Homo sapiens: one gene and its partners. The protein of the gene in region 3 interacts with the protein of the main gene of each other region in a pairwise test. Each region holds a gene or a part of one and is shown on either strand. Other genes may lie near its edges.

The links.
Region 1: the proteins of PPFIA3 (region 3) and PTPRF interact in a two-hybrid assay, tested with the Homo sapiens proteins (one study listed by BioGRID).
Region 2: the proteins of PPFIA3 (region 3) and PTPRS interact in a two-hybrid assay, tested with the Homo sapiens proteins (one study listed by BioGRID).

What each region holds. Positions count from the first base shown.
Region 1 is NC_000001.11:43,607,362-43,611,009, reverse strand, and holds part of PTPRF (receptor-type tyrosine-protein phosphatase F isoform 1 precursor), read right to left. Parts: intron 2,687-3,648; coding exon of another isoform or gene 2,675-2,686; intron 1,628-2,674; coding exon 1,512-1,627; intron 1-1,511. UniProt on the Homo sapiens protein: Possible cell adhesion receptor. It possesses an intrinsic protein tyrosine phosphatase activity (PTPase) and dephosphorylates EPHA2 regulating its activity.
Region 2 is NC_000019.10:5,208,295-5,211,844, reverse strand, and holds part of PTPRS (receptor-type tyrosine-protein phosphatase S isoform 1 precursor), read left to right. Parts: intron 1-76; coding exon 77-255; intron 256-1,039; coding exon 1,040-1,166; intron 1,167-1,250; coding exon 1,251-1,376; intron 1,377-3,453; coding exon 3,454-3,550. UniProt on the Homo sapiens protein: Cell surface receptor that binds to glycosaminoglycans, including chondroitin sulfate proteoglycans and heparan sulfate proteoglycan.
Region 3 is NC_000019.10:49,139,973-49,143,620, reverse strand, and holds part of PPFIA3 (liprin-alpha-3), read right to left. Parts: coding exon 3,533-3,648; intron 2,202-3,532; coding exon 2,108-2,201; intron 1,588-2,107; coding exon 1,506-1,587; intron 818-1,505; coding exon 617-817; intron 1-616. UniProt on the Homo sapiens protein: May regulate the disassembly of focal adhesions. May localize receptor-like tyrosine phosphatases type 2A at specific sites on the plasma membrane, possibly regulating their interaction with the extracellular environment and their association with substrates.

The DNA of each region.
Region 1 (3,648 bases), on a different chromosome or scaffold from region 3:
TAAATAGTTTAGGCTTTGTGGACATCTGGTATCTACTGCATCTATTTAATGGTGCCTTTACAGTGCAAAAGCAACCATAGGTAGGTAGCATATAAATAAATGGGTGTGTCTGTTCCAGTAGAATTTTATTTATTTGTTTATTTTTGAGATGGGGTTTTGCTCTTGTCACCCAGGCTGGAATGCGATGGTACGATCTTGGCTCACGCAACCTCTACCTCCTGGGTTCAAGTGATTCTCCTGCCTCAGCCTCCTGAGTAGCTGGGATGACAGGGGCCACACACCTGGCTAATTTTTGTACTTTTAGTAGAGATGGGATTTCATTAGCTGGTCTCGAACTCCTGACCTCAGGTGATCCACCCGGCTCAGCCTCCCAAAGTGCTGGGATCACAGGCATGAGCCACCACGCCCAGCCAGTAAAAATTTATTTACAAAAACAGGTGGTGGGCTGTACTTGGCCACGGGCCATAGTCTGCCAACCCCTGCTTTAAATGACTCTAGCTCCCAGCCTTCAAGTCTTCCGGCTGAGGGCCCAGACTTTCTGGAATAAAGACAAGCTGTTCCTGCTGTGCCCCTGTCTGAATTCCTGCCTCACAAAAACTGTGACAGATAATACATAATTATTGTTGTTTTAAGCCACTAAGTTTTGGGGTAATTTGACATGCAGAATAACCAGCTCATACATACACAAACCCTGTGTGTATGCATTAGTTCACTCATTCCTTCATTTGTCTGTGTGTTCATTTCACAGGCATTCAACAAGAACCCATCGTGCGCTGAATACAAGGGATGGGGGATGACAAGACACAGTTCCTGGCACCACAGAGCTCAGAGACTGTCACTGAGGTAATCCCAGCTCACTGTGAGAGGCGTCAAAAGGAAGAAGGAGGGAGGTTCCTGGAGCCAAGAAGAGACACCTAACCCTGTGGGGGTGTGGGCAAGAGGAGAGGTCTGAGCTGTGTCTGCTGGGTGTTGGGAGGAGTAACATTTCAGGTAGAAGGAAGAGGTGGACAGCCCCATGAGAGTGGCTAGGAGAAGGGGCAGGTACGTGGTATGGTAAACCTGGGGTCGGCCTCCAGGAAGGCTCAGGTGCAGGCACTTCATCTCCCCACAGATGTCTGGTGAGGCATCTCCCACTGCTAACATGCCCCTCTTTCATGTGGAGGCGTCAGAGCGTGCGCCAGACACTGGCCACCCTGTGGCAGAGACGTGGGCTCTGGGAGGTCCTCAGCCCATATTCAGAGGCCTTGACTGAAGACAAGGCAGTGGCTAAGTGGCTTTGCCACCTAAGAGGGTCCTGGCCTGGGGCACCTGTCCAGCTGCAGGATATGGGGGCTCCCCAGTCATTCCAACCAAAGTGGATGAGCACAGGGAGAAGGGCAGAAAGGAAGAAAAGGAGCAGGAACAAGTGCATGCGGCCCAGGAACTTCAGTGGCGACCCTGAGACCTGCAGAACAGACCCACAGGCCTGCTAGGTCTGGGCTGGGGGCACACAGGCCATAGGAGTGCCCTACCTGGGGTCTGGTAGTTGAGCCTCCGCATCTCCACAGGGTCAGAGGAGTGGGCCAGCAAGGAGTCCTTCAGTCCGATCGACTGCTCATCCTTAGAGGACGGAGAGTGGGTCCTTTTCCTAGAGAGACAGAAGGGAGGCTGGTGAGAACCTGAGGTCCAGGCTGAGACAGTGACACATGGCATGGCTGGCTGCCAAGGAGCCCCCATGTCCACGGCTCTGTCCTCCTACTGCCCCACCTCTTCCCAGGATCTCTGAGCGCGGAGGAGCCAGGGCCAGAACAGCCTTGACATGAGAGAACACAGGGCAGGGAGGGGGTAGGGAGAGCAGGAGTGTGGCGTGAGCAGAGGGGCAGTGCAGCAGGGAGGAAGGGGTTGCAGGGGCGAGCAGCTCCTTTGGATAGAAGGCAGGTCACTGCAGGACAGTGACTGCTATCTCCAAGGCCACCCAGCTGAGTAGCAGGAACCACCGGGAACAAACATGCAAATGACACATAAAATACACAAACAGCACAGGAGACAGGGCCCCAGCTTTTTGGCCCTCAGAGTATCAGGGTAAATGCCCAGGGCAGCAGGGGAGGGACGGGAAAGGCGTCACCCTAGCTGGGCAGAGTCCTCTCTCACTGGCCTCAGTTTTCCCATCTACAAGGACAGGGTCAGAGACAGACCATAGGATTCAGCTGCCAACAAATAGCCAGAGGCTACTTGTGGTCTGCAGACGCATGTGCTTCGGAAAGAAGAATTTGAGTGAGTGTGCTCAGGTGGGTACAAGGACATGCCTCTCTGCTGTTCCACACAGTGACTGCTCTTTGCTCTGTGCGAGACTGTCTCTCGCAGCACTTAGGCAACTTCTCAGAGAACTGGGAGCCGGGTGATGGTTCTGGTGAGCTCTGTACGCTCAGGGAAAGCAATGCAGTCTGTATTATGTATGTGCCCCAGAGAAGAAGCATCCTCTGCAGAGTTGAACTGGCAAGAGTGAGACAGAAACTGCCTCCTCACACCAATGAGGACTCAGTCCTGAACCAGGGAGCCTGCTGAGCTGACTGGACAGTTTGCTGCTTAAAGCCATAGGCCAGGGGACTTCTGGTCAAAGCGTCATCCCTCCCTGCTGGCCCAAGGATTAGAAGTAGAGGGGGAGGTGTGTGAAGAGAGAAGGAACAACTCCTACCTTTCTTGTTTACTAGGTCCCGAAAGACAAGCAAGGACAGAAGAAAGGAACGGTCACAGTTTCCACCAAGCACTCAGCCCTCTAATGACATGGGGACCCTGCAGGCCCCTTATATGGCACCCACATGACATTCACAGGGAGGGGGTCTACCTCTCTGGACAGACCCAGAATGCAGGTGGAAGTGGGAAGGATGAGTGCATCTGTGGGACACTCCTTAGGGACCCGCCCACAGGTCCATCCACCCTGGGAGGAAGGAGTGGACTCTTTAGGAAGGAACAGTGGGTCCAGGGTAGGCACACAGGATACAGGCTCTCCTGCATGGTGCAGAGATGTGCTCAGACACACAGACTAGCATATCTTCATCTGCCAGGTGCTCACTGACATGCCTGTGGGCTCAGCCCAGTGCTGGGGGCTGAAGGCTTGGCACACAGGCCCAGCTGCGTTTGCAGTGGAGCATCACAGGGGACAGCTGTGCAAGGAAGGGGTAGGGGCCAGGCAAGGCCTTGCAGGCACCAGAGCATGGACTTGAGTCCTGAACGATGAGATTGCTGTTGCCAAGTGGGCAGGGGGAGGGAGATCCGCAGAGGGCACACCCTGTGTGGGCCTGAACACTGAATGAGTTCAGTGTCGCAATGTCAGGAGTGTGGCAGGGGTCAGATTAGCCAGGTGTTTGGCTGTCAGGCTAAAGAGGGTGGGCTTTACGTGGGCAGCCATCAAAAGGTTTTAAACTGAGAGTGACAAAGTTAAATCTTTGGAAATCCCTTTCAGGCTGGAAGGTGCACGGATAGGAAGGGAGACTCCTAGGGCAGGTGGTGGCCACTGCCGATAGAGAACTGAGTGGGAAAGACACACTGAGGCTGAGGCCGCTGCGGATGGCACGGGCACAGCAGGCCATCAGTCATGTCTGTTAGTGAGCATCCATGGCCTGTGGGCCTCCAGCTCGACCTCTCTAGGCCTAAGCAGGAGAGTAGGGC
Region 2 (3,550 bases), about 44 Mb from region 3:
TCCACCATTGGTGCTCCAGCTGAAAGCATAGCCTTCCTCATCCTGATGGTGGCCTCTGGCTTCCTCCTCCCCACAGCGGCTGGCTAACTCCAAGGCCCACACGTCACGCTTCATCAGTGCCAATCTGCCTTGTAACAAGTTCAAGAACCGCCTGGTGAACATCATGCCCTATGAGAGCACACGGGTCTGTCTGCAACCCATCCGGGGTGTGGAGGGCTCTGACTACATCAACGCCAGCTTCATTGATGGCTACAGGTAGGTGCCATGCCTTTCCCACCTCAGGGCCCCAGAAGGAGCCCATCTCTACTCTCAAGAGGCCTCCAGTCTTGTGGGAGACAGAGCTGGGGAGATACTGGTAGCCCTGAGCTGTTTAAATACACATCTTTAGATGTATATTTAACTGATGGCTGCTGTCCGTGAATCTTTGGGTGTGTGTTTAACTGATGGCTGCTGTCCATAATGTGATTCCATCTGTTCTATCAGTGGTTCTCAATTGGGGTAATTCTGACACCCTGAGGATATTTCTTATTTTCATGAGTACTACTGGTACTGCCTGGGTGGGGACCAGGCATGCTGCTCAGCATCCTACAGTACACAGAACAGCTTGTCTCAGAGAACAATCCAGCGCCAAATGTCAATAGCACTGAGATTGAGAAATCCTGGCAAAGGAGGGGAGGGTGTTCCTGGCAGAGGGTGCCACATGTGCAAAGGCCCGGGGCTGAGAGCTTGGCCCACGCAAGCAACTGAAAGTAGGGCAGTGGCCCTTGAAGGAGATGGAGGGAAGAAATCAGGAGAGGTTAGTGGATAGTCCCGCAGCTTTGTCAAGGGATTTGAATTTGTCATGAGACTGGTGGTTTCCCCACATGCAAAATGGGATCACCAGGAGGGGAAGTGGTGCACCCAGCAGCCATTCCTGGCAGGCAGTGGGGTGGTAGGTGTAGCTGTCACTGGCTTGGTCCTGACCCTCCCGGGCAGCATCAGGTGAGTACCACGCCGGGTCTCCCTGCCGGCCCTGGGCTCATACCCCCAACGCCTGCAGGCAGCAGAAGGCCTACATCGCGACACAGGGGCCGCTGGCGGAGACCACGGAAGACTTCTGGCGCATGCTGTGGGAGAACAATTCGACGATCGTGGTGATGCTGACCAAGCTGCGGGAGATGGGCCGGGTGAGCTAGGGGCCACAGCAGGGAAGGGCGAGGGCCAGACTGTGGCTCAGACAGCGCTGACCACGGCCGCCATCTCCTCCACAGGAGAAGTGTCACCAGTACTGGCCGGCCGAGCGCTCTGCCCGCTACCAGTACTTTGTGGTAGATCCGATGGCAGAATACAACATGCCTCAGTATATCCTGCGAGAGTTCAAGGTCACAGATGCCCGGGTGAGTGAAGAGACAGACTGGCGGGAGGGGCTGGAGCCTTAGTGATCTGGAAAGGGCTGCCCTGGTTGGTGATGGATACAAAGGCCAAGGGTTAGGCATAAGCATTGGGAATCAGGAGAAGTGTCAGCTGACCAGTTGGCCACTTGCTTCTACTGCCACATAGGTGGAAGAGAGGGTCTTATCTCTGTGCTGACCCTGCAGTGTCTCCACTCACTAGGGAACATGGCCCCAGGGGATGATATTCAAGGAAGTGAATGGGGCTTTCCTCTGGAAGCAGCCACCTGTGGAGGATGATGTTAAAGGGCTGAAAGGGACTTGAGGGATTGAGGGTGAGGGGTGGTAGACGGTGGACAAGGAGAGTCAGATGGTGGGGACTGGCACCGTTGGGTGAGGAGAGATGAGTATGGATGGTGTTGGCTCAATGAAGGACTGCAGTGTCAGGTGGAGGGAGAAAGGCCAGGTATTAGGTGGCAACAGATGAAGACTCATAGTGGAAGGTGGCCCTGTTGGGTGACAAAGGATCAAAGTTAGTGGTGGAAGATCGACGATGGTAGAGAACGCAGTGAGGGGATGATAGAGGATGGGGAATGTTGGCCAAGATGATGCCAAAGGATGGTGAAGGCTGCTGAATGAACAGCAATCACCGGGCATTGTGCTGTGAGCAGTGCAAGATGGTGCCCTTGGAGGGGTGGAATCTGGAATTGGAGAGAAGAACATTCGCATAACAGGATGGAGAATGTCAGTGGAATGTGGTAGTTTGGGTCAGTGAAGGGTGATGCTTTATCAGTGATGGATGGAGGAAGACAGAATTGGAGAAGGGCAAATGTTTGGCCAGCAGGGGGTGGAGAAAATCAATGGGAAATACTAGGACTAAGAAAGGACAGTAAACAATAGTCAATGGTATAAACCAATGGGTGGTACAAGATTGAGGAAGATGGGGTTGGGAAAGGAGATTTTAGAAAATGTAAAACATCAGGGAAAGATGGTACATTGGATGGCAAATGGTGGCAGAGGATAACAATTTTGGATGGCACCATTTTGATGGTGGAGGATGGGATTAGAACAAGGCAGATGATGGGGAATGGAGAATGTCAGTGGAAGATGGTACCCTTGGATGGTGGAGAGTGATGAATTGTTAGTGATGGATGGTGGAAAATGGCACCATTGAGTTGTGAAGGATGGAAGATGGCAGAGAATGATGTGGTTGGATGGCACCACTGGGTGGTAGGAAAGGAGACTGCAAAGAGGAATGGTTGAGTAGTGGGGAATGAAGACAGTCAGTGGAAGATGCCATCACTGAATGGTTAAGGATGAGTTACCAAGAGGGGATGGTGGTGGATGATGGAAGATGATGGTGTTGGGTGGAACTCGGGACGGCAGAAGGTAGTGAGTTACCAGCAGTGGGTGGTAGCAGTGGCACTGTTATTGGATGGTGGAAGATGATGGTGTTGGATGGTGGACGATGAAAGATGATGGCACCATTGGGTTGTAGAAGATGAGTCATCATTGATGAGCTATGGACAGTGATGGAGTTGAGTTGTGCTGTAGGGCCCCGAAATGGCACAGAGTGGAAGATGACAGAGGATCATGGTGAATAGGAGCTGGGAAGGGCAGAGCTGGTTGCACTATGGGATGGCAAAGGATGGAGGATGGAGGTGCTGGATGTCATACAGGAAATGTGGGGAGAGGAACAGCTGGGTGGCAAGAAGTGGTGAGGATGAGGTTGGAGCATCTCTTATGGAAAGCAGTACCATTGGATTGTGAAGGACGGTAAGTTGTCAGGGTAAATGAATGGCAGAGAGTGTACAAAATGGGGGTGAGGGCCGGGCCTGGTGGCTCATGCCTGTAATCCCAGCTAATCGGGAGGCTGAGGCAGGAGAATTACTTGAATCACTGGAGGTGGAGGTTGCAGTGAGCCGAGATCACGCCATTGCACTCCAACCTGGGCGACAAGAGTGAAACTCCATCTCAAAAACAAACAAACAAACAAAAAATGGGGGTGAAGATAGGGAGGATGGAGAAAAACCCCCATGGCCGCTGCTGACCTGATAACAAGATTGGGCTCTCTGCACTCTAGGATGGCCAGTCCCGGACTGTCCGGCAGTTCCAGTTCACAGACTGGCCGGAACAGGGTGTGCCAAAGTCGGGGGAGGGCTTCATCGACTTCATTGGCC
Region 3 (3,648 bases):
CGGGCGGATCACCTGAGGTCGGGAGTTCAAGACCAGTCTGGCCAACGTGTCAAAACCCTGTCTCTACTAAAAATACAAAAATTAACTGGGCGTGGTGGCGGGCGCCTGTAATCCCAGCTACTCAGGAGGCTGAGACAGGAGAATGGCTTGAACCCGGGAGGCAGGGGTTGCAGTGAGCGGAGATAGCGCCATTGCACTCCAGCCTGGACAACAAGAGCGAAACTCTGTCTCCAAAAAAAAAGGAAAGAAAAGATAAAATAATTAGAAGGCAATAAATGCTATGGGGAAAATTAGAAGGTGCTGATATGCCGGAATGATGGGGAAACTCGTTTAGCTGACAAAGAAAGCTTCTTAGAGGTGGTGACATTTGAGTGGGACAGCAAATGCCGAGGAGAGGGAGAGAGTCAGGGAAGGAGGTGGCCTGGGCCCCTCCTGGAGTACCACAGGGACGGACCACAGGCCAAGTTAGGAGTGGAGGGGAGGCTGAGGGGGGTAAAAGCCAATGAGAAGCAGGGTCGTGGGACAGGGGAGTGAGCAGGCCCAGGATTGGCTAGACTGAGGGCAAGAGGCGGGGCTCTGAGGAAGCGAAGGCTGGAATTGGCCGCCGGACACTCACAGTGCGGGAGGAGGCGGGGGCTGAGGGCGAGGTGAGCGAGACCATCTCCTGGATGGCGAGGCGTAGCTTGAGTCGGTGCAGCGGGTTGCTGATGCCGATCTCGCGCTGGATCTCCGTGTCTGACAGGTTGGCCATGATGGCACCGCTCTTGACATTGGCCCGGCAGGCGGCCACATACCAGGCAGGCATGCCCACCCACAGCTGCAGCGGAGGGACAGAGGGACAGAGGGGACAGAGGGACAGAGGAGGAGAAAATCGGAGAGATGGGGGAACAGGGAGGTGGGGAAAGGCAAGGGGGTGGGGAGCGAAACAGAGACGTGGGAAAGTTCGCAAGGAGAAGAAACAGGACAAGGAAAAGAGACGTGGACGAGATGAGGGAGAGTCCGAGGGAGACAAATAGGGAGAGAAACGGGGGGCGGGGGGCGGGTGGGGGAAGAGGGAGAGGGAGAGAGAAAGAGAGAGAGAGAGAAAGAAATAGAGAGAGAGAAATAGAGGGTGGGGAGAGACAGGAAGCCGGAGACAGGGAGACATCGGCAGGGCGATCGGAGACATGAGGAGAAATATGGGGAATGACAAAAGCGTGGTCAGAGATGGGAATGGTGCCGAAAAATAGAGACAGAGAATCCAGAAAGAGAGAGTAGAGAGAACGACAGGAGACCATGACCCAGGTGGGCAAGGCCAGAGTGGCAGGGGCAGAAGGAGAAGGAGAAAGAAACTGTTTAGGTGAACAGGAAGCCCGAGCCCTCCTGGGTCCTCACCTGCCAGGCCCATGGCCACCCCCACCTCTGGGCTAGAAGCAGGGTGCGCCAGGAGGACCAGGCAGCCCCTACCAGTGGGGCTGTCAGAGGGGTTGGGGACCAACAGTCAGGGCATTTCTGGGCCCCAGTACCTCCAGCCAGGACACCACGGTGGGCCCGTCCCAGGCAGCAAAAGGTAGGCCCTGGCGGCAGGCCTCCTCCAGGAGTTCATGCCTGTAAGGGTGAAGGGGCCAGGATAGAAGCTGTCAGGGATGGAGACCCCCTGCTCTGTGGATGGCCCCCATCAGCACACATACACACACACACACATGCACATACGCACACGCAGCTTTTATGAATGTACAAAACACGGCAGAAGGTCAAAAAATACATGTGAATCTGTAAATCCTCTCCCCCCAACCCCTATCAAAAGAGAGAACAAAATAAGAAAAACAAAAGAAACAAAAAATATAATATAAATGTAAAAAATACAAAAAAAATTTTTAAAAAAAGAAAGAAAAAATAAAAACTCTAGGAGCTCCTGGGTTTCCAGGCAAGCAAGTTCAGGATCACGGACACCTCCTCCCAGCATTGAATTCCCATTTCTGTTCACCACCACCACCGCTGCACACACACACTCACACACCCTCTCACACACACACACACTCATACACACACATACACGCACACACACACCCTCACACACTCTCACATTCACATACACACACACACGCTCACACTCACACACACTCACTTCCTCTTGTTCCTTCGGTCCTTGTCTCCTGGGCCTGTCAGCTTGGCTAGCCCCAGAGGGTCAGTGGCCAGTGTCTCATCTGAGGGTGTTCCAGCTGGAGGCAGGGAGGGGTCGAAATTTGGAAAATCTCAAGGGGGAGGCAGAATCTTTCATGCTGGAGGTGATGAGGAAAATGCCGGAAAGGCAGAGGCCCTGAGGGAGTAGTGAGTGAGGGCACATCGAGGAAGTGATAAAGGCAGACAAGCGCCCATGAATTGGAGTCATCCCCAAAATACGGCTGGATGCACTGGGATGCCCTTGGTAAGGTGGCAGTTGTATGCTGGTAAATGCCTAACAACCGGCTCCTTGGGGAGGCAGAAGGGAATCCCTGATTTGTAGCATTTGCCCATTTCCATGGTGTAAATAATCCCACCATGGCCAATTTCAAGCTACCAGTGTGATGTCAGCCAATTCCTGAAATAGCGGATCTCCTGAGCCAGTGCCAGCGGGCTCCAGCACACCACAGGAAGGTGCCCTGCTTTGAGGATGCCCCACCCTCTTCCTCTGTTTAAAAAATAGGTGGCTGGGCACGGTGGCTCACACCTGTAATCCCAGCACTTTGGGAGGCTGAGGCAGGCAGATCACAAGGTCAGGAGATCAAGACCATCCTGGCTAACACGGTGAAACCCCATCTCTACTGAAAATACAAAAAGTTAGCCGGGCGTGGTGGTGGGCGCCTGTAGTCCCAGCTACTGGGGAGGCTGAGGCAGGAGAATGGCATGAACCTGGGAGGCGGAGCTTGCAGTGAGCCGAGATAGCACCACTGCACTCCAGCCTGGGCGACAGAGCAAGACTCCGTCTCCAAACAAAAAAAAAAAAAAAAAAAAAAAAAAAAGGTAAATGAGTCTGTAATCCCAGCACTTTGGGAGGCCGAGGTGGGTGGATCATCTGAGGTCAGGAGTTCAAGACCAGCCTGGCCAACATGAGGAAACCCTATCTCTACTAAAAATACAAAAAAATTAGCCAGGCATAGTGGCGGGCGCCTATAGTCCCAGCTGCTCAAGAGGCCGAGGCAGGAGAATCGCTTGAACCCAGGAGGTAGAGGTTCCAGTGAGCCAAGATCGTTGCCACTGCACTCCAGCCTGGGTGACAGAGTGAAACTCCATCTCAAAACAACAACAACAAAAACCAAAAAACAACAAAAAAATAAGTAAAGGAAATAAATTCCTTTACCTACCCAGTCACCCAAGCAGGTCCCAGAGTGCCCTTTCCTTTTCCCTCCTCCTCCCGCCTACCTTGGCAAGCTGTGTTCCTTCCAAATTCTAAATAAATCACCAAATGAATGAAGACATGAATGGATGTCAAATGAACATACAAAGAAGAAAGAAAGGGAGGGAGGAAGGGAGGAAGGAACAAAGGAGGGAAGGGTTAGAGTGAGGTACTCACCCAGAGAAGAGCTGTCCCGGCCTGGGGGTCCCATTCGTCCCTTCTCTTTCTTGCCAAAGAGACGGCCTATGGATGACTTGATGCTCTTCTTCTTGGGGGCTTTGTGCAGAGAATCT